Linked DNA regions of Homo sapiens: regions 1, 2, 3, 5, 6 and 7 are each reported to be linked to region 4. The links are microRNA targets in miRTarBase. Many come from high-throughput screens and were not tested one by one. Region 4 holds a microRNA gene; each other region holds the end of a gene's coding sequence.
What was found. Region 4 holds the annotated microRNA hsa-miR-2053 (GUGUUAAUUAAACCUCUAUUUAC, at 1,069-1,091, opposite strand). A microRNA usually pairs through its seed, bases 2 to 8, with sites in the 3' UTR of a target mRNA and lowers its output. Matches are read on the target gene's strand: a 7mer-m8 pairs with bases 2 to 8, a 7mer-A1 pairs with bases 2 to 7 and ends in A, and an 8mer does both.

Region 1: the mRNA of CACNG6 is a reported target of hsa-miR-2053. The part of its 3' UTR that is shown has no 7-base or 8-base seed match.
Region 2: the mRNA of HSPA5 is a reported target of hsa-miR-2053. Seed matches in the 3' UTR shown: 7mer-A1 at 864-870.
Region 3: miRTarBase lists IFT56 as a target of hsa-miR-2053. Seed matches in the 3' UTR shown: 7mer-A1 at 2,870-2,876.
Region 5: the mRNA of ZNF146 is a reported target of hsa-miR-2053. Seed matches in the 3' UTR shown: 7mer-A1 at 921-927 and 7mer-m8 at 1,665-1,671.
Region 6: the mRNA of RAB6A is a reported target of hsa-miR-2053. Seed matches in the 3' UTR shown: 7mer-A1 at 2,256-2,262.
Region 7: the mRNA of DENND5B is a reported target of hsa-miR-2053. Seed matches in the 3' UTR shown: 7mer-m8 at 2,945-2,951 and 7mer-m8 at 2,974-2,980.

What each region holds. Positions count from the first base shown.
Region 1 is chr19:54,011,907-54,015,986 of GRCh38, reverse strand. CACNG6 (calcium voltage-gated channel auxiliary subunit gamma 6) reads right to left here. Exons shown (of 4, transcript NM_145814.2): 4 at 3,321-4,036. The coding sequence ends at 3,798. Among named protein-coding and RNA genes, the nearest start is that of CACNG6, 22 kb to the right of the region's middle.
Region 2 is chr9:125,233,109-125,237,186 of GRCh38, reverse strand. It overlaps HSPA5 (heat shock protein family A (Hsp70) member 5), which reads left to right. Exons shown (of 8, transcript NM_005347.5): 8 at 33-2,334. The coding sequence ends at 595. RABEPK (Rab9 effector protein with kelch motifs) reads right to left here. Exons shown (of 8, transcript NM_005833.4): 8 at 3,026-3,499. The coding sequence ends at 3,207. Among named protein-coding and RNA genes, the nearest start is that of HSPA5, 6.2 kb to the left of the region's middle.
Region 3 is chr7:139,189,085-139,193,084 of GRCh38, reverse strand. IFT56 (intraflagellar transport 56) reads right to left here. Exons shown (of 18, transcript NM_024926.4): 18 at 1,099-3,764. The coding sequence ends at 3,653. Among named protein-coding and RNA genes, the nearest start is that of UBN2, 40 kb to the left of the region's middle.
Region 4 is chr8:112,640,564-112,644,643 of GRCh38, reverse strand. It overlaps MIR2053 (microRNA 2053), which reads right to left and starts at 1,151; the gene lies at 1,061-1,151. All of the region lies in intron 20 of CSMD3 (CUB and Sushi multiple domains 3), which reads left to right.
Region 5 is chr19:36,236,508-36,240,587 of GRCh38, forward strand. It overlaps ZNF146 (zinc finger protein 146), which reads left to right. Exons shown (of 4, transcript NM_007145.3): 4 at 1-2,261. The coding sequence ends at 812. It also overlaps a transcript of ZNF565 not described here. Among named protein-coding and RNA genes, the nearest start is that of ZNF146, 23 kb to the left of the region's middle. RefSeq lists a silencer at 1-67.
Region 6 is chr11:73,674,660-73,678,739 of GRCh38, reverse strand. RAB6A (RAB6A, member RAS oncogene family) reads left to right here. Exons shown (of 8, transcript NM_198896.2): 8 at 778-3,102. The coding sequence ends at 842. Among named protein-coding and RNA genes, the nearest start is that of PLEKHB1, 30 kb to the right of the region's middle.
Region 7 is chr12:31,384,000-31,388,079 of GRCh38, reverse strand. DENND5B (DENN domain containing 5B) reads left to right here. Exons shown (of 21, transcript NM_144973.4): 21 at 294-4,080. The coding sequence ends at 477. Among named protein-coding and RNA genes, the nearest start is that of LINC02387, 17 kb to the right of the region's middle.

The DNA of each region.
Region 1 (4,080 bases), not on the chromosome of region 4:
GTCGAGGCTGCAGTGAGCCATGATTGTGCCATTGCACTCCAGCCTGGGGGACAGAGTGAGACTCCATCTTGAAAAGAAAGAAAGAAAGAGAGAAAGAAAGAAAGAGAGAGAGAAAGAGAGAAAGAGAAAGAGAAAGAAACAAAGAAAGAAAGAAAGAAGAAAAAAGAAAGAAAGAAAGAAAAAGGAAGAAAGGAAGGGAGGGAGGGAGGAAGAGAGAGAGGCCAGACGCAGTGGCTCGCGCCTGTAATTCCAGCAGTTTGGGAGACTGAGGCGGGTGGATCATGAGGTCAGGAGATCGAGACCATCCTGGCTAACAAGGTGAAACCCCGTCTGTACTAAAAAAAAATACAAAAAAATTAGCCAGGCTTGGTGGCGGGCGCCTGTAGTCCCAGCTACTCGGGAGGCTGAGGCAGGAGAATGGCGTGAACCTGGGAGGTGGAGCTTGCAGTGAGCCGAGATTGCACCACCGAGCTCCAGCCTGGGTGACAGAGCGAGACTTCGGCTCAAAAAAAAAAAAAGAAAAAGAAAGAAGGAAAGAAAGAAAGAGAGAGAGAGAGAGAAGAAAGAAAGAAAGAGGAAGAAAGAAAAGAAGGAAGGAAGGAAGGAAGGAAGGAAGGAAGGAAGGAAGGAAGGAAGGAAGGAAGGAAGGAAGGGCCATTCCCCCAAGACCAACTATCTCCGCCACCCCCATGGCAGATGTCTCTTGAGGCTTCCCTGACCTGGCTGGGCACAAAGTCAAACAACAAAAAAAAAATTGTGGACTCTCTTGTCTCCTAGCACTTAACTTGGTTTATAATTGCACGCTCATTACTTCAGTGATGTGATTAGTATCTGTTTCCATCAGCAGGCTGTCAGCTCGTCGTCGGGGGTCCCTGTTTACTCTGTAAGTGCCACTTGAGAAAAACTAACAGCAAAGGCAGATCGAGTTGCGACCACGTGCCAGGCGGTCTCCTGGGAGCTTTGCAGGGCTCATGATGGCGTTTACTCCCGACGGTGACTCCTGGGAGTAGGTACAGGATTGAGCTCACGCACCGTCTTTAGGGATGAAGGAACGAAGACAGAGAGAGGTGAAGCTGTTGCCCCAGCCATAGGTCGGGGAGCTGGGCTTTCACACCAGCCTGGCTCCCAGGTGCCCAGGCACTGCGGGGCACTTCTGCTTGTTGAATGGAAGAATGCAGAATTAGAAACAAAAATCGCATGGTCAGCTGGGCGCGGTGGCTCACGCCTGTAACCCCAGCACTTTGGGAGGCGGAGGTGGGACGATCACTTGAGGTCAGGCGTTCAAGACCAGCCAGGCCAACGTGGTGACACCCCATCTGTGCTAAAAATACAAAAATTAGCTGGGTCTGGTGGCGCACACCTGTAATCCCAGGTACTGGGGTGGCTGAGGCACAAGAATTGCTTGAACCCGGGAGGCGGAGGTTGCCGTGAGCCGAGATCGCACCACTGCCCTCCAGCCTGGGCGACAGAGTGAGACTGCAAAATAAAAATAAAAATAAAATCACATGATCATCTCAATAGATGCAGAAAAAGCATTTTGATATGGGAGGGGGGCAGAGAACTGCTGGGTAGAGAAGGGCAGGGTCTCTGGCAAGGGCTCTACCCTAGGGCCTGTGCCCATGGACCTAAATTAGAACAGGCATTTCCGAAGGTGCTGGGATTACAGATGTGAGCCACCACACCCAGCTAATTTTTGTATGTTTTGTTGTTGTTGATTTGTTTTGTTTGTTTGTTTGTTTTTAGTAGAGACAGGGTTTCACCATGTTGGCCAGGCAGATCTCGAACTCCTGACCTCAGGTGATCCACCCGCCTCGACCTCCCAAGGTGCTGGAGTTACAGGCATGAGCCGTCGCGTGGGGCCAAGACTCACCCTTTTCTTAACACCTGGCAACCACTAGTCTGTCTTCCGGGTCTGCAATTTAGTGACTTCAAGAATAAGAAACCTTGTTTCAACCCCTTGACCTGATGCCAGTGTGTCTCTGCTCAGCAAGCTCCCATGGCTCCTCAGTACCCTCAGGGTAAAGGCCAAGCTGTTCTGTTGAGCATCTGAGTCTCTCCACCTTGTTCATAAGACAGCCCACCCCAACCCTCTCACGTTTCCTGTGTCTCACTCTGAACACCAGCGTTCACATTTCCTCACTCACAGGTTCATCATGTTTTTCCTCTTGTTTCTGTCCAGGCTCTCCCACCCAGCTGGAACGCCCGTGACGTTCTCCACTTTCTCTGATTCTTACTCACCTTGAAGACTCAAGTTCGTCATCTTCTTCGGAAGGCTTTCCTGAACCAATCCCCCTTCCCCCCACCTTTTTGATTTTTTTTTTTTTTTTTTTTTTTTTTGAGACGGAGTCTTGCTCTGTCACCCAGGCTGGAGTGCAGTGGCGAGATCCCGGCTCACTGCAACCTCCAACTCCCAGGTTCAAGCAATTCTCCTGACTCAGCCTCCCGAGTAGCTGGGATTACAGGTGCCTGCCACCACACCCAGCTAATTTTTGTATTTTTAGTAGAGACGGGGGTTCACCGTGTTGGCCAGGCTGGTCTTGAACTCCTGACCTCAGGTGATCCACCCGCCTTGGCATCCCAAAGTGCTGGGATTACAGGCGTGAGCCGCCACACCCGACCAGAAAACACAATTTAGAATATATACACTGTTAATGGTTGAATGTTCTCCCCTACAAAATGTATATATATATATATATGTTGGACCCTAACCCCCAGTACCTAAGAATGTGACCTCATTTGGAGATACGGTCTTTACAGAGATAATCAAGTTAAAATAAGGTCATTGGGGGTAAATCCTAATCACGTATGACAGGAGTCATGTGTAAAGGGGAAATCTGGGTGGGGTACGGTGGCTCACGCCTGTAATCCCAGCACTTTGGGAGGCTGAGACAGGTGGATCACTTGAGATCAGGAGTTCGAGACCAGCCTGGTTAACATGGTAAAACCCCGTCTCTTCTAAAAAAAAAAAAAAAATACAAAAATTAGCTGGGCATGGTGGCTCGTGCCTGTAAACGCAGCTACTTGCGAGGCTGAGGCAGGAGAATCACTTGAGCCCAGGAGGCGGAGGTTGCGGTGAGCCAAGATTGCAGCACTACACTCCAGCCTGGGAGACAGAGCAAGACTCCGTCTCAAAATAAAAATAAAAATAAAAAATATATTGTGTTTTCCACACTCTCAACCATTGTGTATGGGTTCGTTTTCATGTGACTTCTGGGCTTAAAAGTGTTTCTGGAGGGTATGTTTCTGGAGGGAATATGGGGTCACTTTTCTTTACCCCAGAATGCACGATCACATCACAAATAGACTCCAAAGCAAAGTTGTTAAATTTCCAAACCTTTAATCCCAAATCAGATCACAGCGAGGCCAGACCCTTCGCTATCTCCCCCAACCGCACCCGGAGCTGCAGATGAGTTGTAAAAAGTCTCTCCCGGCAAGTGAATCGATCCAGACCTGGGAAATGAAGGGGCCCCCAACTCCCACCCAAGACCCCCTGACCTCATCCCCCAACCCCACACCCCAGCTACCCCATCAGGTCCCCGCCAGTCTTCTCTGGGGACCCTCGTTTGCAAAGAGCCTCTTCCCATCCCACCCCCAAGCAACCCACATACAGCCACAGAGAAAAACGTATTTACAGAGGGAGAAAGGATAAGGGGACAGGAGGCAGGCGTGTAAAAAAACATGGGCCCCCGAGCAGGGAGAACACAGTTTCTCTAGGAGATGGGGCAAAAAGATCTTGGGGGTACAATGGAGAAGGTCAAAGGGCTCGGTGGTTGCTTAGAGAAGTCTCACGCGTGGCTCTAGGTGGCCCGGTGCCCCCGCTTGGGACAGAGGGACCCCCAGGGCCAGGAAGGCAGTGTGAGCAGCAGAAAGCAGCCGGCCCCCAACAGCAGGATCAGGCCGGCCCCCACGCCGCAGCCCAGGGACCAGGAGTACTCGTAGGTGAGGCGTGGGGCCGGGGGAGGCTCCGGGCTGACTCTCTGCAGCAGGGCCCTCACGGAATGCCGGAACACCTCCAGGCTCACCAAGAGCAGCAGGCCTGCGGGAGAGAGGACAGCTCGCAGTCAGACGCCCGCGACCCCA
Region 2 (4,078 bases), not on the chromosome of region 4:
AACTAACAAGTTTTTCTGTATGTAACTTCTAGGTGAAAGACCCCTGACAAAAGACAATCATCTTCTGGGTACATTTGATCTGACTGGAATTCCTCCTGCTCCTCGTGGGGTCCCACAGATTGAAGTCACCTTTGAGATAGATGTGAATGGTATTCTTCGAGTGACAGCTGAAGACAAGGGTACAGGGAACAAAAATAAGATCACAATCACCAATGACCAGAATCGCCTGACACCTGAAGAAATCGAAAGGATGGTTAATGATGCTGAGAAGTTTGCTGAGGAAGACAAAAAGCTCAAGGAGCGCATTGATACTAGAAATGAGTTGGAAAGCTATGCCTATTCTCTAAAGAATCAGATTGGAGATAAAGAAAAGCTGGGAGGTAAACTTTCCTCTGAAGATAAGGAGACCATGGAAAAAGCTGTAGAAGAAAAGATTGAATGGCTGGAAAGCCACCAAGATGCTGACATTGAAGACTTCAAAGCTAAGAAGAAGGAACTGGAAGAAATTGTTCAACCAATTATCAGCAAACTCTATGGAAGTGCAGGCCCTCCCCCAACTGGTGAAGAGGATACAGCAGAAAAAGATGAGTTGTAGACACTGATCTGCTAGTGCTGTAATATTGTAAATACTGGACTCAGGAACTTTTGTTAGGAAAAAATTGAAAGAACTTAAGTCTCGAATGTAATTGGAATCTTCACCTCAGAGTGGAGTTGAAACTGCTATAGCCTAAGCGGCTGTTTACTGCTTTTCATTAGCAGTTGCTCACATGTCTTTGGGTGGGGGGGAGAAGAAGAATTGGCCATCTTAAAAAGCGGGTAAAAAACCTGGGTTAGGGTGTGTGTTCACCTTCAAAATGTTCTATTTAACAACTGGGTCATGTGCATCTGGTGTAGGAAGTTTTTTCTACCATAAGTGACACCAATAAATGTTTGTTATTTACACTGGTCTAATGTTTGTGAGAAGCTTCTAATTAGATCAATTACTTATTTTAGGAAATTTAAGACTAGATACTCGTGTGTGGGGTGAGGGGAGGGAGTATTTGGTATGTTGGGATAAGGAAACACTTCTATTTAATGCTTCCAGGGATTTTTTTTTTTTTTTTTAACCCTCCTGGGCCCAAGTGATCCTTCCACCTCAGTCTCCCAGCTAATTGAGACCACAGGCTTGTTACCACCATGCTCGGCTTTTGCATTAATCTAAGAAAAGGGGAGAGAAGTTAATCCACATCTTTACTCAGGCAAGGGGCATTTCACAGTGCCCAAGAGTGGGGTTTTCTTGAACATACTTGGTTTCCTATTTCCCCTTATCTTTCTAAAACTGCCTTTCTGGTGGCTTTTTTTAAAATTATTACTAATGATGCTTTTATAGCTGCTTGGATTCTCTGAGAAATGATGGGGAGTGAGTGATCACTGGTATTAACTTTATACACTTGGATTTCATTTGTAACTTTAGGATGTAAAGGTATATTGTGAACCCTAGCTGTGTCAGAATCTCCATCCCTGAAATTTCTCATTAGTGGTACTGGGGTGGGATCTTGGATGGTGACATTGAAACTACACTAAATCCCCTCACTATGAATGGGTTGTTAAAGGCAATGGTTTGTGTCAAAACTGGTTTAGGATTACTTAGATTGTGTTCCTGAAGAAAAGAGTCCAGGTAAATGGTATGATCAATAAAGGACAGGCTGGTGCTAACATAAAATCCAATATTGTAATCCTAGCACTTTGGGAGGCCAAGGCGGGTGGATCACAAGGTCAAGAGATAGAGACCATCTTTGCCAACATGGTGAAACTCCATCTCTACTGAAAATACAAAAATTAGCTGGGCGTGGTAGTGCAAGCTGAAGGCTGAGGCAGGAGAATCACTCGAACCCGGGAGGCAGAGGTTGCAGTGAGCCGAGATCACACCACTGTACTCCAGCCCGGCACTCCAGCCTGGCGACAAGAGTGAGACTCCACCTCAAAAAAAAAAAAAAGAATCCAATACTGCCCAAGGATAGGTATTTTATAGATGGGCAACTGGCTGAAAGGTTAATTCTCTAGGGCTAGTAGAACTGGATCCCAACACCAAACTCTTAATTAGACCTAGGCCTCAGCTGCACTGCCCGAAAAGCATTTGGGCAGACCCTGAGCAGAATACTGGTCTCAGGCCAAGCCCAATACAGCCATTAAAGATGACCTACAGTGCTGTGTACCCTGGGGCAATAGGGTTAAATGGTAGTTAGCAACTAGGGCTAGTCTTCCCTTACCTCAAAGGCTCTCACTACCGTGGACCACCTAGTCTGTAACTCTTTCTGAGGAGCTGTTACTGAATATTAAAAAGATAGACTTCAACTATGTGTCTGATGTCTATAGTTTGTTGTTTACCAATTATAATTCTGCAACTTCTTTTTTAACCCTAACCATATTGCAACTTTGTGATTAGCATTTAATACACAAATCACACCTACCTAGGTTTGTATTGTTGGCAAAACCTTTTATATATATATATATGTATACATATATATGTGTTTATGTATACATATATAAATACATGTATATATAAATATGTATACATATATATGTATACATATAAATATACTATATATGTATACATATATATGTGTGTATATATGTATATATATATATATTTTTTTTTTTTTTGAGACAGAGTTTCGTTCTTGTCACCCAGGCTGGAGTGCAATGGTGTGATCTCAGCTCACCGCAACCTCCGCCTCCCGGGTTCAAGCGATTCTCCTGTCTCAGCCTCCTGAGTATCTGGGATTACAGGCATGGGCCAGCACACCCGGCTAATTTTGTGTTTTTAGTAGAGACGGAGTTTCTTCATGGTAGTAAGGCTGGTTTTGAACTCCCGACCTCAGGTGATCCACCTCCTCAGCCTCCCAAAGTGTTGGGATTACAGGCGTGAGCCACCAAGCCTGGCCCAAAGCCTTTTATGTTAATGCAGTGGAGGTTTTTGCATTGGGCAAAACTTATCTATCTACCACAGTTTGCAAACCAGTCACTGAAAGTCATTCCCAAGAGCTCTGAGAGGCAATATAGCAAGGTTTAGTGCACATAAGAATTATTTGCATTAGTTTCTTCACCTACCAAAGTAGGAGAAAAACAGATATATAATGCAGAAGATATTTTGGAGGTATAAAACAGCTAATGTTTTACTTAACTATTCTGAAAGTAACTGACAGGTAATAAAAATGTGGGTTTTATTAGTCCACTACAGTCACAATACAATCGTCATAGATTTCCCCTTCTGTATTCATCCCACCAAACACCAAACAGAGCAGTGTAGCAGTCTGGCTTTCCTCATGTGAGTCACCACTGTGGCTCATTACTTTGTCAGCTGAATCCTCTTTCTCAGCTTCATGGTTCAGAGTGAGAGAGTTGGAATCTTCTTTCTCAGAAGCACACGTCACTGGCCATGGAATGATACACATGGAATGGTCCAATCGTCCAGGGGGTAGAAGAGTATCAAATTTAAGCAAGGTCCAATGCTGCTCTTCTATGTTGGGGAGGGAAAAGGCTTCATGTTAAGAAATTTCCAGATAGGCCGGGCACGGTGGCTCACGCCTGTAATCCCAGCACTTTGGGAGGCCGAAGCGGGTGGATCACGAGGTCAGGAGATGGAGACCATCCTGGCTAACACGGTGAAACCCCGTCTCTACCAAAAATACAAAAAAAAAATTAGCTGGGCATGGTGGCGGGCACCTGTAGTCCCAGCTACTCGGGAGGCTGAGGCAGGAGAATGGCGTGAACCCAGGAGGTGGAACTTGCAGTGAGCCAAGATCACGTCACCGCACTACAGCCTGGGCGACAGAGTGAGACTCCATCTCAGACAAAAAAAAAAAAAAAAAAAAAAACAATTTCCAGATAGTGAAAGCCAAAATCTGAATAAAATTTAAAAAGTAATGAAATTTCTAGAAATGCTCAGTGATTTACTGTAGCAGCCGAGTCCTAACAAACAGGAGTAAAAGGAAAAAAACCTTATGGCAGCATTGCTGCTTTCCTGATGTCATCCCCTACAGAGTTTTCATTCTTTTGGATTTAGATATAGAGGAACCAAATTGGAAGCACTGCATCA
Region 3 (4,000 bases), not on the chromosome of region 4:
TCAGGTGATCCTCCCTTCTCAGCCTCCCAAGTAACTGGGATGACAGGAATGTGCCACTACACCTGGCTAATTAAAATTTTTTTTTTTTTTTGTAGAGACAGGGTTTTGGTATGTTGCTCAGGCTGGTCTCGAACTCCTGGCATCAAGTGATCCTCCCACCTCAGCCTCCCAAAGTGTTGGGATTACAGGCATAAGCCACTATGCCCAGCCTAGAAGTATTTTATAGGATGAAGAAAAGAGTCGTAAGACAACTATTCATCTAAGACACAGATGTTCTCAATACAGGATCTAGTAAATCACTACTTCATTTTTGCCATTAGAAAGTAGATGTAACTATTGTGATATCATGCCTGTTTGCTAGCACCTTTCTGAAAGTGCACTAAGCCACAGAGGAGGAAAGCAGTCCCTTGGCTTCCGTCTACTTGGATGCATGTGATGTGTGTGGCACACATGGCAGAGCTGTGGGCATCTTGCTAGCTGTTGAGCTTTGGGATCCATTCTGATTGCTTCTCCCAAATGAGGCAGGGGGCATCTCATTTACACGGATACAAACATTCCATTGCCTTCTTTTATTGCTCAATACTTTATTCCCACTGATGATATCAATCACGTTGTTGTGTTTAGTTGTGTATACTTCTGTTAGAGTTCCTTGAGAGTCAGGCCTGTGCATTATTTATCTTTGCAGCCCAAGTACCTGGCATATGCTTAGCACACAATAAAATAATAATTCAATGGGAACTGAATATATGAGGTTAGACTTCACAAGTCACTTGCCCTACCAGTTACTGTATGTTTAATTATTCAGTCAACAAGTATGTGAGAGCTTTCTATGTGTGAGGTACTACACTATGCACTGGTCATATAACTTCTGAATGGGCTGTAATTCAGCAAAGAGCCAAGCCTAGTATGATTCAGCAGGAACTACCAGCCTCTTAGTGGAAAGGGCTTCTTGGGGAATATGTACTTTTCTCTCTTCTAAAGAGTAACTTATGGGGCCCAAAACTTTCTCTCCTTTCATTCTAGGGCTAGGAAAGAAAGGGTAGAAGGCACATGACATACTTAGGTCCCACCCTCATCACACTCAACAGAATATCATACTAAGAATCAAATAATAAACTTTAATTTGAATATAATACAGTAGAATATAATAATTATTTTGAGGTACAAAAATAATTATAAAATACTTTTCCCATTTGCAAGTAATGTATGCTATAGACTATAAATAGTACACTGATGCCAGAAACTGTACATATTTCACTACATGCCTAAGTCTGGGTCTTCCTCTCTCCTCCATCATCACATGTAAGAAAACCAGCTATGCAATACTACTTTGCAATCTTGAAACTCTGTTAAGACATTTCAGAAGTAGCTATCTTTAATAAAAGAATTAGATGGTACCTTTCTTTAAAATAGTATGTATGTTTTTTGGCTCAATCCTATAGATGAAAAAGTTTACAAAAATTAGATTTCTGCCATTTTTGGAATATCTGCTTTTTTTTCCCAAAAGACAGGAAAATGTCAGAGAGAATCTAGAGTGCTGAATTCAACACAAGCTCATTTGAAAGTAAGTCTCCATCAATGGAAAAGCTTTTTGACTATAGGCAATTTGAAAATAATAGCAATTCACTGGAAGACAAATTTCACTGCCAAAACCTGCAGACGAGTTCTCCCTGTCTTTTCTATTACTGTGTTTCCTAATATTTTAAGTGAGGTAAGAATTACAAGAGTGATTCTAAAAATTATAGCAGGTTCTACCCAGATGGGACCCATCTAGTTCCTAAGATGCTGAGAGCCATTTATTATTTAAAAAGTAGGAACAACATGAGGAAACAGAAGCTTTGGCATATGAAAAAAGATGTAGCTTTGCTTCCTAGAATTCAGTTATTTAGGCCAGTTTATTTTGATTTGTGCTCTGAACTGATTATATATGGGTCTAAAGATAAAAGACAGAAAAACTGGCCATCCTCATGAGTAGAGGTGAAATAACCCCTTGAGACAGTCCTGAAGGTGAAGGAGATCTTCAGTCATCGATCTCTTCTTGGCTGCTTCCACTCCTGCCATTTTCTCATCTCCTTTCTATACAACTCCTTCATCCACAAGTGGAGTGCTGGGATAAATGGAACAACTAATACAGTGCCTACGGGGATTTTCCTGACTTCAGTGCTTGAGGAATTCTTTCTTTCAGTTCTCTTCCCATCTATTCTCTTCTAGGTAGGGATGGCTCTGCACTTTCTAGACCTGTAACACTAGGTACCTTAAACTAATAGAAAAAAACTATATGGTGTAAAAACAAAGGTAGTATAAAACATAGAAAGATGTGGGTCTCTTTTCTGGAAATAGGTTGTGAGCTTAAGAATGCTCAGTTGTATGTTATAAGAGCTCAGAAGCCTGGGGCTGGAATATGACTTACGACAGAGAGCCTAGCCATTAGGAGATTCCCTCAAAGGACTTTATACGATTCATGTTTTATTATCGTTACATTAATAAGTGCCCACAATACATATAAATCACTGTAGCCCTACTTTCAAAACTGATGTTTGGGCCAGGCGCGGTGGCTCATGCCTGTAATCCCAGCACTTTGGGAGGCTGAGACGGGCGGATCACGAGGTCAGGAGATGGAGAGCATTGTGGCTAACACGGTGAAACCCCGTCTCTACTAAAAATACAAAAAATTAGCCGGGCGCGGTGGCGGGTGCCTGTAGTCCCAGCTACTCAGAAGGCTGAGGCAGGAGACTGGCGTGAACCCAGGAGGTGGAGCTTGCAGTGAGCCGAGATCGCACCACTGTACTCCAGCCTGGGCGACAGAGCGAGACTCCGTCTCAAAAACAACAACAACAACAACAACAACAACAACAACAAAAACTGATGTTTGTTAAGCAAGATACATTAACAAAAACCTAACCTGCTTTGTTACCTAAAATAATTATGGTACCAAACTATAATGGACTAGTGAGATTCATAAACATTGTTTCTTGAATACCTTTAGAGGTACTACAATTTTTTTCATAGTACTCACCTTTTAAAACATTGCAATACTCATCTTACTGCGCTGTAACATGTTATTATCATCAACAATTTAATTACTGAAAGAGTAATCCCATAAATCTATCCTATTAATGACTGGACAGTTTGATAAAGTAGCTTACTGCCTTTCTTAGAAACACATAGCTAGTTATTCTCCCAAGATTCAGAGATGACGTTATAAAACCCTTTATGGAATTCCCCAATAAAATGGGATAACGTACAGAGACGCCTTAAAGTTAAATGATACAATGATGCTGATTCTTGAACATCAAAGATGTTTGTTATTGCAGCCAGGAGACAATGCCATAAAATGCTAACAAAAAAAAGTTATACTGTTTTCCTTAAAGTCAGTAAATTGCATAAAAGTACTCTGAGCATTTTTGGAAGAAAGGCACCAGATAAGTCCAAAATCTTATTGCTACTAGGATCATACAGGGTCACAGACTATGGCACTCTGTTCAGCCAGGAGACTAAGTCTCAGCAAGTCAGTCTCTGACCTTGAGGCTTAAAGAGCAAGGAAGGAAAATGTCAATAAAACAGAGCCCTGTATCACAGATTAAACTGGAGTGAAAATGATTTCCAGTTTTATGTCAAAGTAGAAGCTGGTTCCTAGGACGCTGGCGCTATTTTAGATGGACACTCTGTTTTCTTTGGCCCATTTCTTCATGATCCGGATCATGTATTCTACTTGGGTGTTACCTGTGCTTCTCAGTAAATGGAGCACTTCTCGAAGGGTCTCTCTGAGGAAAAGATTTGAAAAGACAAAGTGTTTCAATGAAGAATGAAAATTAAAAAATAAAATAAACTCTGAACTGTCCTTCATACTGTATGTCTTGTAGGGCATTTTTGGTAATAGACTCTTTCACTGTGTATTCACAAAGCAATTACAAACTGCCTAGCCTTATGTTCTTATTGTGGCATAGTAAAATGGAAATTATGTGAAATCTTTCTTGCCAATCCAAGTGTTCCTTGTTTA
Region 4 (4,080 bases):
TAAATATCTGTGTCTCAGATTCTTTAGTACAGAGCTATAGATATGTCTCACATAGAGTGTAAAATTGCACTCTGCATAAGGTAGATGTTAATAAATGTCCTTTTACAAATAAACAAATAAGTAAAAGGCTCTGTAGTATTAAACATGGTTCATTCATGAGATTCAACCACTCATAAAACTTTTACAACCTACTTCACTGTTTTGAAAGGAATCTGTAAAGAATGACATGTATCCCTATAGGAATCTATAACAAACAATTTTGCATGATTAATAATTCGTTTTCTTACTGCTTAATAAGAGGGACTGCTAAACAATTACTCATGTTTAATTTACCATCCATTTTTGCAAATATTGCTTATAATTAGAAGTGTATAAGTATGTATTTCAAATTTATCAAGATACAGTGTAATTTATCAAGGTAACAACTTATGAATGGTAAAATGACCATTCTAATATATGAAAACAAAAAATATATTAAAGTTATTTACTTGAAAATCTCCATGGGTTGATCTTCTAAAAGAGCTAGTTTATTCATTTTAAAATCTGATTTTGAAAAGTACTTTTTTTTAGCTCTGTTGATGTATTATATTATTGAATTTTACTATTAAAATATATTTATTGATTTTAATATAGAAAATCTAAAAAAAGAAAAAGTCAAAACAAAATACTTTTAGCAATGAGAAGATGTTATTACCATTAAAACTAAAAGCTTGTGTTTAATACATTTAAATTTGCGTTTTCAGAAATAAAGTTTGCCTTTGATTAAATTACATATATATTTTATCAGGAGGTGAGAATTATGTCAGGACTAGTTTGGTTAAATTTCTACAATGAATTAAATATTACTGAGAAAAAGCGTTGTTAAAATGAGTATTCTGGTACTGAATAGCAGGAATGAGGTAGAAGACTTTGTAAACTGTGATTTTTGTCAATCTTTATTAATAGAAGACTCTTTGCTGGAAGTTAACCAAAGTGTCCCATTATCCCAGTGTGCAATAGATTAATAGAGTTTAAAATAAGCTCCCTGATATTATAGAAGGGAGTGGAGGGCTACATACTGCTTGCTATGTAAATAGAGGTTTAATTAACACTTAAAGTTTTGCATCTTCACAGGTTGCAAATGTTAATTAAATCTGTATTTACATGGCAAGAGATGCGGACGTAGATGCCTTTCTTTTAAGAGCCAACTAAGTTTGTCTGAAGTACAACTCTTCCAAAGTGTAGCAAATTTACATGAAGGAAAATTTCAAAGTTGGGAGAAATATTCAAGGTAATATAGTCTAACCTCTTACTCAGAAAACTAGCTTCTCCGTATGGTGTTTCAGAAACATGATGAACTGGCCTGTTATGGGTATTTCTGTTGATAAGGACTGTACTCCTTGGGACAAATTCCTCATTTTTTCCATATTTGATTGTTTAAAAATTATTCTGCAGCCGTTATCCCTGTTCTGCTCTCTGGAGCTATACCAAAAAAGGCAGCCTAATCCTTGCTCCAACCAAAAGCTCCTCAAACACATCAACTCACCATTCTGAGACTACCATGTTTTTCATGTCCTCTATCCCTAGATCATGATTCCAAGTCTTTTCTTCCCAGACTAAACACTCCTAGTTTCTTTAATTCATCATAAGATAATATTTTCATGTTCATCACCACTCTAATCAACTTCCTCTGGATGCATTCCAGCTTATCTCTTTAAAATGTGGTTTTCTAAAACTGAACACATCATGGCACAGTGTAACACTAAAATTATTTTCATTGAAGAAGACAGTATTTGTGTTAATTAACTTTTTTGCTGCCATGTTATAATACTAATTGATAAGAAGTTTGTAGTAATCTAAATCATCTTTTTAGATTACTGGGACTTAAAATACAGATAAATTCAATTCTTAAAATTCTATAATTATGCAATTGCTTTTTTCTATCTTCAGTGCAAGCTTTTATATGTATCCCTGTTATGCTTTATCATATTGATTTTGATTCAGAGTTCCTATGAGATCATTTTGAAGTGATTTACATTTCATTTACATTTACATTGTGTAGTCAGATGTTCTTATATAACTATGATCATTAGTATTTTAAGGGTTTATAAGAATCTTAACAAGGATAAATCTAAATATCTAAATATTTAAGAAATAATAAAATGTATATGTACCATCTGTAATCTCTTCACCATTAAACATTAAGTCAAGGTGTTTGAACACATACAATTGTTCAGTAGTTTCAAACTCAGTTAACGACAGTGTCATTCAGCCTACATTGCTCCTTATTTACAAGGACACCATGAGAGATTTTCCTTAAACACGTTGTAGAAGTCAGGATGCTAATTATAAATAGTTACGGGAAACCTAGAGAAAAAAATGTACATCAGGAAAAACCCTTAGACTTTTAGAAGTTGGACTGTCCTTAAATAAAGCATAGTCCACACCTATTACTTTACATATTAGAAAAAAAAAGTCAAATGGCACCCTTTAGGTAATAGCTGGTGGCATGACTATAACTAAAACCTAGATATTAACGCTATTTTGACTTTAAGTACAAGTCATACAGATATATATATATATAAACATAAATTACCTTTATTGGGCATCTTGAATTAGCATTCTTACTAGAAGTAATTACGATATTGAAACCACTGACTTTTTCTCCCTGCCTTATTAGAATTGGTTGTCTTTTCCTGTCTAATCCCCTTCTTTCCAAAATGTCTATACTAGGTCCTCACCATCACAAACTTCTCACTTTTGAAAGTCATTGCCTTTTTGATTTAGGAGGTCATTGCTTTGGGGTTTTTTGTTTGTTTGTTTGTTTTTTATGTTTTTCCTGAGATGGGTTCTCACCCTGTCACCCAGGCTGATCCTGGCTCACTGCATCCTCAGTCTTCCTGGGCTCAGGTGACCCTCCCACCTCAGCCTCCTGAGTAGGTGGGACTACAGGTGTATGCCACCACACTCAGCTAAGTTTTGTATTTTTTTGTAGAGTTGGGATTCCACCATGTTTCCCAAGCTGATCTCAAACTTCTGGATTCAAGCAATCCACCCGTCTAGGCCTCCCAAAGTGCTGGGATTACAGGTGTGAGCCACCAGACCTGGATTGTCATTACATTTGAAGGTCATTTTTATACCCCTCTACGGACCCCTTTGACAAATTAGTTACCTCTATTTCTATGCTCCTATATTGAGTTGTATTAACCAGTTTGGCAGAATGATTAAAATTTTGGTTCATGTACCTTTTTCCTCAAATAGGCCATGAGTTACTTACAGTCTTCTAAATATTTATATTCTATAATGACTAGAATATAGTAGTTTCTCAGGATCATTTTCTTATTTGGATTAATTGACCTTTGGCACAACTTTGAAGGTCTTAAGTTGTTTTGCAGTAGTGAAAGAAAGCAAATATTACCATTTAATCCATGACTTGATGAACAGCAGCTTCTTTTTACAAAGCGGCTGGCCAGGGCTAAATAACAGGAAAAACATTAGCTCTCATTTTGGGAAATTGATCAATAGCAATAACGCTTTCTGTGCCAGTCACTGTGCGAAGTCATTTACCTGTTACCTTATTTAAATTGCAAAACAACTCTATTAGAACCCCATTTTAAATATGGAGAAAGTAGGGCTCAGAAAGGTAAATAATACTTAACAGTGGCTTTGTTGGCACCGATAATTAATTAATGAAATTCTAAAATAATTCATTCTATGTATTTCAGAACAAGCACATTTTTCTTAAAAAATAAAAATAATATAGTATACATGATGATTTATTTCTCTTTTATTCAATCTACTCTCCTATTGTCTAACTATTTTTTTCTTAGCTTTATAGCAGAAATAAGACTGACTTATCTGAACTTTCTACCCTTACATTATTTTGCAGGAGCTAATCTGGACAGCAAAGCATCTTCTCTTTACTATGTCAAAATCCCATTTTCCTTTCATCTGTCTAGTATCAATACTGATTTTATACTATAGAAGATTTGAAAAACTGACTTAATTTTTAGACCCCCTCTAAAAGGGCTCTTGTATTGCTGCCAATTATAGAGAGGAGAAAAAAAAAACACCAAAACTTGCATTTTGAAAAATAATTTG
Region 5 (4,080 bases), not on the chromosome of region 4:
AAGTCTTCAGCCACAAATCAAACCTCACTGAGCATGAGCATTTTCACACGAGAGAGAAACCTTTTGAATGTAACGAGTGTGGAAAAGCCTTTAGCCAAAAGCAGTATGTCATTAAACATCAGAACACCCATACTGGCGAGAAGCTTTTCGAATGTAATGAATGTGGAAAATCATTTAGCCAGAAGGAAAACCTCCTTACGCACCAGAAAATTCACACTGGAGAAAAACCTTTTGAGTGTAAAGATTGCGGGAAAGCTTTCATTCAGAAGTCAAACCTCATCAGACACCAGAGAACTCACACAGGAGAGAAGCCCTTTGTATGTAAGGAGTGTGGAAAAACCTTCAGTGGCAAATCCAACCTTACTGAGCATGAGAAAATCCATATTGGAGAGAAGCCTTTTAAATGTAGTGAATGTGGAACAGCCTTTGGCCAGAAGAAGTACCTCATAAAACATCAGAACATTCACACTGGAGAGAAACCCTATGAATGTAACGAATGTGGAAAAGCCTTCTCTCAGCGAACATCACTTATTGTACATGTGAGGATTCATTCAGGTGATAAACCTTACGAATGCAATGTTTGTGGAAAAGCCTTCTCTCAGAGCTCATCTCTCACTGTGCATGTGAGAAGCCATACAGGGGAGAAGCCCTATGGTTGTAATGAATGTGGGAAAGCTTTCTCTCAGTTCTCAACCCTTGCTCTGCATTTGAGAATACACACAGGTAAGAAGCCTTATCAGTGCAGTGAATGTGGGAAAGCTTTCAGCCAGAAGTCACACCACATTAGACACCAGAAAATTCATACTCACTAAAAACCCCATGAAAGCCTTGAAAGTGGGAAAGCTTTCATTAGAAATTTGCACCTCATCATGCCCCAGAAATAATCCTTCTGAAGCAAAGCACCACGAATGAGGTTAACTTTAACAAGTACTAAAAACTTAAGGGACACCAGAAAATTTGTACTGAAGAGAAAGACATGCATATGATTAAAACCCTGTGTCCAACAGAGAAACCTGCAGCAGAGATAATGGTGAAAGTTTAGGCACATTTTCACTAAAAGTGGGAACAGAAAATGGAGGCCTGTTTTTTATTGCTACCACCATAGATCTGGAGATCTTCGCCAGTAACAAGAAAAATTAAGTTGTAAATATTGGAAAGGAACAGACAAAAATAGATGACATGGTCATCTACAACTAATATTAAGACTCCTGTGGTATTGATTGAGCAGAGCAGAAGAGATTTCAAAAAAAGACCTATGCATTTATTAGAATTTGGAATATGATACAAGTGGCATCAGGAAATGAGGAAATAATGGAACTATTTTTTTTAAGTGGAGGTAGTTTGTTCTCCAAGGGGGAAAAATAGACCATGAACTATACACAAAAGTGAATCCAGAGATTAAAAACAGAAATATGGAAAAGCTATGTACTAAAATGCATATGACCTTGGGAATAGGGAAACATTCCTTGGAACAATTTGAGAAATACTTAGCGGTTCTACTTATGAGTATGAATGCTCAGGAAATACGCACTAGGATATTTACTGTGGCTTGATTTGTAGTAGCCAAAAATTAGAAACAACTGAGAAAGCCCATCACGAACAATATGGGAAATTCTTATGTAATACTATATATCTGTAAAATGCAACAAATGAAATCCACATGTATTAACAGAAAGATCCCAGAATTGTTGAGGGGGGATCAAGTTGCAGAATGATACAGATAGTACAATGACTTTTTTGTAAATTTGAATTAAAAGTTTCCTCATAAAACTCAGTACTATCTATTGGTAATGGATGCATATATGTATGTACATGTTTTTGAAACGGATTGGAAGGATACAGACCAAACTCTTGATAGTGGTCACCTGTGAAGAGTGGAGAAGGGAAAATAATGAGTGTGGGAGGTGGGATGGGTATTGGTTAAAGGGGACTTCAGCTTTTTATATAAACATCCACTTCTCTTTCAAAAGACTTCAAGTAAATATAAGAAGATACTGATTGATTCTGGATTGTGGTATAGGGATATCTTGTCTTATTTTTTGTACTTTTCTGTATTTTTAAAATTTCTCAAAATAGGAATGGGAGTGAGGATGGGAATGCTGTATCTGTGGAAGTCATGTTATACTGGATTCATTTCCAATTAAATACTAAACATTTTATAGAAAATATTTCTAAAATTTTATCACGGATGAATGGATGGACTTGCTCTCTATGTAATATGAAATTAATCTATTTTATTAAAATTTAAAAGGACAGCACAATCCAAATCTGTTTTAATTATTTTAACATGGCATACACACTATATCGGGGTCCCCAGCTCCCCCCAGCTGCATGGCAGGAGGTGAGTGGCGGGTGAGCGAGCATTGCCACCTGAGCTCCACCTCCTGCCAGATCAGCGGTGGCATTAGTTCTCATAGGAGCGCGAACCCTATTGGGAACTGTGCATGTGAGGAATCCAGGTTGTGCGCTTCTTATGAGAATGTAACGCCTGATGATCTGAGGTGGAACAGTTTCATCCTGAAAACATCCCATCCCCATTCTTCTACCCCCACAAACCGTCCGTGGAAAAATTGTCTTCCATGAAACAGGTCCCTGGTACCAAAAAGGTTGGGGACCGCTGCACTATATGATCTCTGTCTTCGTATTTCTAACATTTTGCAGAATGAGCTTAGAAAACTTTAACTTTTTCTTTGTTCATACATGCACAGGCTTCATATAATTGGTCTTTTTCAGTTAGGCTGATTTTGGAATGTCAGTTTTCCTCTCCTGCATATTTCCATGGGAAACGTGTGCATTAAATATTAAATTTTTGATAATATCTTTTTTTTTTTTTTTCCCATCTTGCTCTGTTGCCCAGGCCAGAATACCATGGCAGGATCTTGGCTCACTGCAATCTCCTCTGCTTACTGGGCTCAAGCAGTCCTCCGACCTCAGCCTCCCAAGTAGCTGGGACTACAGGCACGCACCACTATGCTGTGCCAATTAAAAAAAAAAAATTGTAGCGATGGGGTCTCCGTATATTGCCCAGATTAGTCCCAAACTCCTGGGGTGAAGTGATTCTCCATGGCCTGTTCAAGTGCTGCCATTACATTACAGGTATGAGTCACCATGCCCAGCTAATTTTATTTTTAAAAAGAGAAAACAACTTCCCATAACTTCCACAGTTCAGTGCATTAGATACCAACACCTGCGTGTCTGTCTTAACCTGCGAGCTCTGTCACTCCTCCCACTGCTGTTACAGAGAGAGAATGGGACGGGTATGAGAAAAATGGCTCAGACCCTAGACAGAGTTCTATTTTGTAAACCAGCCCTTCATGAAAATTTTTTTATTCTTTGATCACATTATAATATAAAGAATATTATTAAAGGTTTTCTTGAATAATGGTGAATGTCAATAATATACAGCATTTGAGCTTGATTTTGAAACCTTAAAAAACTCATTAAATGGCACTGCATCACTGTATCTTTTAGCCTTTTTGGAGGAATTAGATACTTAAATGTCTAAATGAATCTGCCCTTTATATTATGATGTACCCCATCTTTTTCTCTGTTTTCCCTGTTTGCACATATATTTCACATTTAAAGGTGTTGTCTTTATGATACAGTTGGCCCTCTGTATCCATGGGCTCTGCATCCATTTATCAACGAACCCTGGATGGAAAGTGTTTAAAATATACAACAATTTTAAAAATACAAATGTTAATATACAACTATTTGGATAGCATTTACATTGTATTAGGTATTATGACTAATCTAGAGATGATTCTAGCTAGGCATGTGCCACACATCTGTAGTCCCAGCCACTTGGGAGGGTGAGCTGGGAGGATTGCTTGAGCCCAGGAGTTTGAGGCTGCAGTCAGCCGTGATTGCACCACTATATTGCAGCCTGGGTGACAGAGACCCTGTCGAAAACAAACAAAACCAGGAGGAAAAACACAGGGATGGAGACAGATCAGTGGGAAGAGAATTGAGAGTCCACAAATGCTATGGGTTGAATGTCCCACCCAAAACTCAATGTTGAAATTTAATTGCCATGGTAATGGCATGAAAGGTTGAGACCCTTAAAATGGCCATGAAGGG
Region 6 (4,080 bases), not on the chromosome of region 4:
CCCAAAAAAAAAAACACAACAACAACATAAAACATAATATGTTTCAAAAACAAAACAACAACAACAACAAAAAATGTTCTATTGAGTTGAAGTATGTCCCCGCGCCCACCGCCGTTTTTTTTTGAGATGGAGTCTCATTCTGTCGCCCAGGCTGGAGTGCAGCAGCGCAATCTCAGCTCACCACAACCTCTGCCTCCTGAATTCAAGTGATTCTCCTGCCTCAGCCTCCCAAGTAGCTGGGAATACAGGCATGAGCCACCATGCCCAGCTAATTTTTATATTTTTAGTAGAGATGGGGTTTCGCCATGTTGGCCAGGCTGGTCTTGAACTCCTGACCTCAGGTGTTCGGCCTGCCTCAACCTCCCAAAGTGTTGGGATTACAGGCATGAGCCACGGCACCCGGCCTGAAGTCCCATTATTTACTAAATGTTTCCTCTGCTGTTGGAACTATCTTGTAGGCTATTTTCAGATTTATATTATAGATGATTCTATGAGGAACATCATCTTCATATCACTTCTTGCCACTGTAGAATAAGTTCCTTAGGATAGATACCCATAAATAGAGCTTGTACCTCATTCTGACCCTTGTTGCATATAGTAGATATAAACAAGTTTATTCCATTTGAGCACCTTATATGGTGAGGCGGCTATGTAGAAAATAGTGAGTGTGTAGGCTCTGAAGACAGATAGGAATATAAGGGCCATCCCAGAAATGCTAGTGTTTGGAAGAATTGAAATTGTACTTTCCCATTTATGGCTTCTTAACTTTTGTTTCAGTGATTGACATAAAACTGGAAAAGCCTCAGGAGCAACCAGTCAGTGAAGGAGGCTGTTCCTGCTAATCTCCCATGTCATCTTCAACCTTCTTCAGAAGCTCACTGCTTTGGCCCCCTTACTCTTTCATTGACTGCAGTGTGAATATTGGCTTGAACCTTTTCCCTTCAGTAATAACGTATTGCAATTCATCATTGCTGCCTGTCTCGTGGAGATGATCTATTAGCTTCACAAGCACAACAAAAGTCAGTGTCTTCATTATTTATATTTTACAAAAAGCCAAAATATTTCAGCATATTCCAGTGATAACTTTAAAAATTAGATACATTTTCTTAACATTTTTTTCTTTTTTAATGTTATGATAATGTACTTCAAAATGATGGAAATCTCAACAGTATGAGTATGGCTTGGTTAACGAGCGGTATGTTCACAGCCTACTTTATCTCTCCTTGCTTTTCTCACCTCTCACTTACCCCCATTCCCTATTACCCTATTCTTACCTAGCCTCCCCCGACTTCCTCAAAACAAACAAGAGATGGCAAAGCAGCAGTTCTACCAAGCCCATTGGAATTATCCTTTAATTTTACAGATACCACTTGCTGTAGGCTACGGACCAAGATGTCCAAAATTATTCTTGAGCACTGATATAAATTACGGTCTTCTTTGAGGTCAAAATTCAGCCATCATGGTAGGCAGTGCTTGAATGAGAAAAGGCTCCTGGTGCATCTTCAAAATGAGTCCTAAAGAACATACTGAGTACTTAGAAGTAGAAGAACATAAGATGTATTTCTGACTAAAACAAATGGCTCTTTCACATGTGCTTTATTAGACTCTGGGAGAGAAAATTAACCAAGTGCTTCAGAACAGGTTTTTAGTATTTAATTCTTCACGGTAAGAAAATGAAGTTCTAATGAACTGTTTCTCCCAAGGTTTTAAAATTGTCAAGAGTTATTCTGTTTGTTTAAAAAATAAGAAACCTCTTTAAGCAATAGATTTTGCTTGGGTTTTCTTTTTTAAAAACATAATACTGTGCAGGCAAGGCACTGTAAAAGTTTTAATTCCTTCCAGAAGAACCAGTGGAAGAATTTAAATTTGGCGCTACGATCAAAACTACTGAATTAGTAGAAATAATGATGTCTAAAGCTTACCAACAAAAGAACCCTCAGCAGAATAACAAAAACTTTGCTCAGGACATTTGAGGTCAAATTGAAGACGGAAACCGGAAACCGTTTTCTTGTAAGCCCCTAGAGGCAGATCAGGTAAAGCATACATAGTAGAGGGAAAGGAGAGAATGGAAATAAAACTCAATATTATGCAGATTTATGCCTTATTTTTTAGCATTTTTTAAGGTTGGGTCTTTCAGGCTGGTTTTGGTTTGTATTAGATCTGTATAGTTTAATTAACTGGTGATTTAGTTTTATATTTAAGCTACAATTAATCTTTTTTCTTTGGTGATATTTATTTCTTTGCCTTTTTTTTTTTTAACAACTTTCAATCTTCAGATGTTTCGTTGAATCTATTTAGAGCTTCACCATGGCAATATGTATTTCCCTTAAAACACTGCAAACAAATATACTAGGAGTGTGCCCTTTTAATCTTTACTAGTTATTGTGAGATTGCTGTGTAAGCTAATAAACACATTTGTAAATACATTGTTTGCAGGACGAAAACTTCTGAGTTACAGCTCAGGAAAAGCCTGCTGAATTTATGTTGTAAGCATTACTTAACACAGTATAAAGATGAAAAGACAACAAAAATATCTTCATACTTCCTCATCCCCTCATTGGAACAAAACCTTAAACTGGGAGAACCTTAGTCCCCTCTCTTTCCTCTTCCTCCTCCACTTCCCACTTATTGTCACCTTGTAATATTCAGAGAGCACTTGGATTATGGATCTGAATAGAGAAATGCTTACAGATAATCATTAGCCCACATACCAGTAACTTATACTTAAAGATGGGATGGAGTTGTAAAGTGCTTTTATAATACAATATAATTGTTAAAGGCAAGGGTTGACTCTTTGTTTTATTTTGACATGGCATGTCCTGAAATAAATATTGATTCAATATGGCAGATGGGTCATATTCTTTATTTGGAAGAAGTTGTGACTTCTGACATGGGTGTGATTGTCTTCCTACACTGTTGCATTTGATTCTTTTTATGTATTTTTAAGAAAGTAACCAGTTATACTGCTTTTAATATTGATTGGTCTTTTTATTTGGCTTGGAGTTCTTCAAAGCATTGAAGTGTGTTCATAGTCCAGGTTTTTTTTTTAATAAACACAATTTTGCTGCCAAAAATATATAAATAAAACACGAAAGAAAACAATTATTGACCTGGTTTCCCATTCCTGCCAAGATGGTGAATTAGCATTTACTTCTCCCTCTCTGGGAAGACCTTTAAAGCAGACATGGACAGAATCCAGAAAAATAACAACAACAAATGTGAGGAACTCCTAGGGAGTCAAAGACTCTTTTTTTGATGGGGGTATTGTTGGGGGGTGGGGGAGAGGGGCTGCAACTTGAAAGATACATCCCCTGGTGGAGGCAGTAATAGGACATATTAAGAAAAGCATCTTAAGTTCTGCTTTTGCGTCCTCACTCCTAACTATACCTTTGCCTTGGGACAGGAGCCAGCAAACTGTGGCCCTCCCACCAAATGCAGCCTGGAACCAGTTTTAAAAATTAAGTTTTATTGGAACTCAGCCATACTTTCCCACTATAATGGCAGAGCTTAATAGCTGCCACAGACCTTATGGCCCTAAAACCCAAAAAACTGTTTACTATCTGGCCCTTTACAGAGAAAAGGGCAACCCCTGCCTTGGGACAACCATAGCTGAACCCCTTACTGTAAAATGAAGGCCACAGGCCAGAATACTAGTGCAGGTGTCTGCAAGAGTAATATTAAGGCAGTACAAAAGCACTAATAAGCCGATGGAAATAAAGGCAAGGCCCTGAAATAAGTTGTGGCTTTGGGGGATGATACTGATACTGAATGGGAGTGATTACATGTGGGCTTATAGTTCCTAGAACTCTTTGCCCCAAAGTTTGTCCCCTCCTCTCCTTGACAGTCTTGTCCCTTGTGCCTTCCAGACTAGTAGCCTATACCCTGAGGGGAATTTGAACTCACACAGCAATATAGTTGAATACCTAAAAACTGCCTCAAAAGTAAAAGTAAATATCTAAAGCAGAAATACTTTGGGAAAGAACGAATAATTTAAGGATGACATGATAAATATTAAGGAGATAAGATATGAAACAATTTGGAATCATAAATTAAGTGTGAAAAGTTTTTAATTGTTGAAAT
Region 7 (4,080 bases), not on the chromosome of region 4:
AATGTCTTTAATGTGCATAGACTTTCTAATGTACTTTAAACTCTTAAAGTACATTAAATTGGGTTTAAAATAATGGGTTTTCCCTTTAGCTTTCTTTACACTGTCTCATCACTGTCTTTTTACCAGAAAATATTCAACTTCTTGGCTTTGATTTCCTCTCTCCTGACCTCTTAGCTTGGATACATTTTGTACCATCAAGTCCCACACCTTCCCATTCATACAGACTCCACTGTGTGCCTTGTTCTGCAGCGAGGCCAGCAATGCTCAGGAATTGTTTCTGTTTGGGTCTGTAGGGATCGCCTGCTCCCACAGTGGATTCCATTGTTAGCTGAGTGTCCTGCCATCACTCGAATGTATGAAGAGAGCGCTCTCCTGCGAGACCGCATGACTGTCAACTCCCTTATCCGAATTCTGCAGACCATTCAGGACTTCACCATAGTCCTAGAAGGATCACTCATCAAAGGAGTGGATGTGTAACCCAACTGGCTAGAAACTCTCAGTCCAAACCTTGCTCCTTCCCCAACTAGGGGACCGATTTGGACTTGTCTGACAGTAGTGAGTCACTGCAGGGGCAGCCAAACATATGCCCCATTTGGAACAATCCTCACTCTACAGACAAGGCAAAATGTTGTATTGTAGTTCATTTGAACCTGGAATTTAGTATAAAATAGAGTATTTTCATGTGTTAGATGTGTGTAAATATGCTATCTTCTTTAAGAAATTATATTACTCTAATAAGATGCTTTTCTTAGATTGAATATTCCTGTGACTTAAAATAAGTAGCTTAAAAATGTTGGGGGTTGGGGGGAAGAGTGGTGCTAGCCAGGAAGAAGCCAGTAAACATGTAAATATAGTGCAACCCAGTCGGGCTTTTTTTTTTCTCCAGGTATCACAAAGAAACCCAGAATGCATTGTTATGTAGTAGCCATCCATCTTGGAGTCTGATCCTTTGTATTGTGGATGCACACAGCTTTACCTACTGTACTGGTAGTCTTCACTTCTATCTTTTAAGTTACAAACTGTTTTATATATTTGAATCGCTAGTCACTTTTCCAGTCTTTTGGAAAAAAATTTCAGTCCGCACAAGATGATATAATTGGAGTATTTTAAACACTAGACCCCAGGAGCTTGGCTGAACTGGAAAGAGAACATACAAAGCTCTGAGAAATGTGTTCAATTGTGGGATTATAACTTCTTTACACTTCGGAAAGATTAGCCTAGACTAACTTCATTCTTGGCATTTTTATTCTTGTTATTTGAGGTACTTTGGGAAGATGTGAATTTCAGTGTTAGATTCATAGTGATAAGAACTGCAAACAGCAATTTGATTCTGTACTTTTAATTTGGCCATCTAAACTGTGCAGTGGTCTACCTCTTAAGGATAACCATGAGCCCTGTCTTTGTTAGGGTCTAATCACCCACCTCTCCAGGGCCCATCCCCCCTCGGGAAATGGAAGGAATGTCTAAGGAGGAGGAGGGCTGTGTGTGGCTTGGAATGTTTTTGTGAAAGCATTTGTTGACCATGATAATGCAAATAACAGAAGGAGAGAGAGAATGAACCCTTTCTGGGTGTTTCAGGGCAAGCTTTACGTTCCTTTGTAGGAAGGGGAGTAATAATGTAAAACAACTGACCCAGAGAAGCTAAAAGCCACTGGCAGCACAGGCTGACAAAATGGAAGCAAAGCAAGAGGTGGCAACAATTTTGAAAGACCAAAAGTTGTGAGTAACTTTCCAGTTTGATAGTTTATAAAGAAGTTAAGTAAATGTAGTATTGGCTAGTTACTGTAAGTCCTCATCTTCTGGTAGGTCCTGTAACTCTAATTAGGCATTTGTACATTTTTAGCAGCAAAATTGCCTCAGCAGAGCTCCCAGTTTTATTCCCAGTTGTGGCTGAAAAGCAAAGCCATGGCATCAGTATCCTTGTGCAATCGGAGGTTGCTGGGCTTTCACCACCTGTGTTGTTAACCTTATTTCCTGGAGGAAGAAACAGATGAAACAAGTGCCTAACTCCCTTTATCAAACACAGCCAAGGACAGCCTCTTTTAACATGTGACTTCATACTTGAGGAAAAGGAGAGTTGACAGCTGTATTTAAAAACCCATGGAGCCGGGTGCGGTGGCTCACGCCTATGATCCCAGCACTTTGGGAGGCCGAGGCAGGCGGATCACAAGGTCAGGAGATTGAGACCCTCCTGGCTAACACCGTGAAACCCCGTCTCTACTAAAAATACAAAAAATTAGCCGGGCGTGGTGGCGGGTGCCTGTACAGGAGGCTGAGGCAGGAGAATGGCGTGAACCCGCGAGGCGGAGCTTGCAGTAAGCTGAGATCGCGCCACTGCCCTCCAGCCTGGGCAACAGAGCAAGACTCCATCTCAAAAAATAAATAGATAAAAATAAAAACCCATGGAAATGGTTTAAGAAAATGGTTCTGGGTACACCAGAAATTTGTTTGCCTGAAGCTAAAGTGTGTCTACAATGGTACAGCTCTTCCAGGGACATGGGAAGTTTATCGTGGGAGATATCCAGAACCTGTTTTACACTGGGCTCCTACTGTGTTTGGTGATCAGAAACTATAGAGGGGTCCAACCCAGGATTTCATGTTTGTATCTTCATAAGGCCATGCTCCTGACAGGTCTAGGCAACCTGGGGGATGACTTAGGTTAATGTGCTAGGATTGACACACCTCATCCAGCCTTCTTACTTTGTGGATGGGAACACTTAAGGAATAGAGAGATTAAATCTTACACTTACCCCACAGCTGGTTACTGACAACACAAGCTCTAGAATTCATGTTTGTTTGTTTGTTTTATTTCACCAGGCTGCATGAGACTGACCTTCCGGCATTCTTACTAATAGTCTTTCTATTATACTATTGGATCTTTATTCATCCACCTATACAAGTAGGAAATAAGGATGAATATTCATTTAGAAGAATTAATATTCATATTAACACATTGCTCTCAGATTATTGGGAATTAACATCTTGTAAAAACTGGGAGCAGGCCAGGTACGGTGGCTAACGCCTGTAATCCTGACACTTTGGGAGTCTGAGGCGGGTGGTTCATCTGAGGTCAGTCGGGAGTTCAAGACCAGACTGGCCAACATGGTGAAACCCCGTCTCTACTAAAAAAAAAAAATAGACAAAAATTAGCGGGGGGGTGGTGGCAGGGCCTGTAATTCCAGCTACTCAGGAGGCTGAAGCAGGAGAATCGTTTAAACACAGGAGGTGGAGGTTGCAGTGAGCCGAGATTGTGCCACTGCACTCCAACCTGGGTGACAAGAGCGAGACTCCGTCTCAAAAAAAAAAAAAGAAAAAAACTGCAGCCAAAGTTGGATTTGCGGCCTATGAATAAAACCATTACTTTAAAAAGTAATACCCCCAAAAAAGTTACACCTGAAGTTTCATCTTCATGCCTTTGTGTAATATTACTATAATGGTGAAATGATGATTTAAAAAAAACACATCAGAACTGACACATCCTCTTGGATGATGGGTCCTTCAGTCACCTTGTGAGCCCATGTACTTATTCCGTTGATACAGCCTGTGCTATAAACATGTGGGGCCCTCCTTGTGTGAGCTGCTTGAATGGCCAGTACCCCCATTCTTTTGAATATTCCCAATGGCAGTCAATCTTGGCCTTTAAGAATAAATTTAAATATTTGGAAATAGTCCTTAGGATCCAAGTTTGATCAATGAAAAGGATGCTTAAGCTGAGTTTGGGGTCACATAAGAAGTGCAGTTATAAAGAAATAAGACATGTTGGGCATGGCAGTACACACCTGTAGTCCCAGCTGCTTGGGAAGCCAAGGCAGGAGGATCACTTCAACCCAGGAGTTTGAGTCCAGCCTGGGTAACATAGGGAAACCCCATCTCAAAAAAACAAAACAAAGGACTTAGTTTTTATGTGGCTCATAAGTGTCTCTAAGTTATACCAAAAGTTTGAGCACAACAGTAGTAGCAGAATGCTTAGAATAAATGCTTGACTTTTAAGCTGACTTTTGGAAGGACCATACCCACATAGAGGCATCTTTTCTGCTGTGGTAATTTTTTAAATTAATACATTGCTTTAGGATTACATCT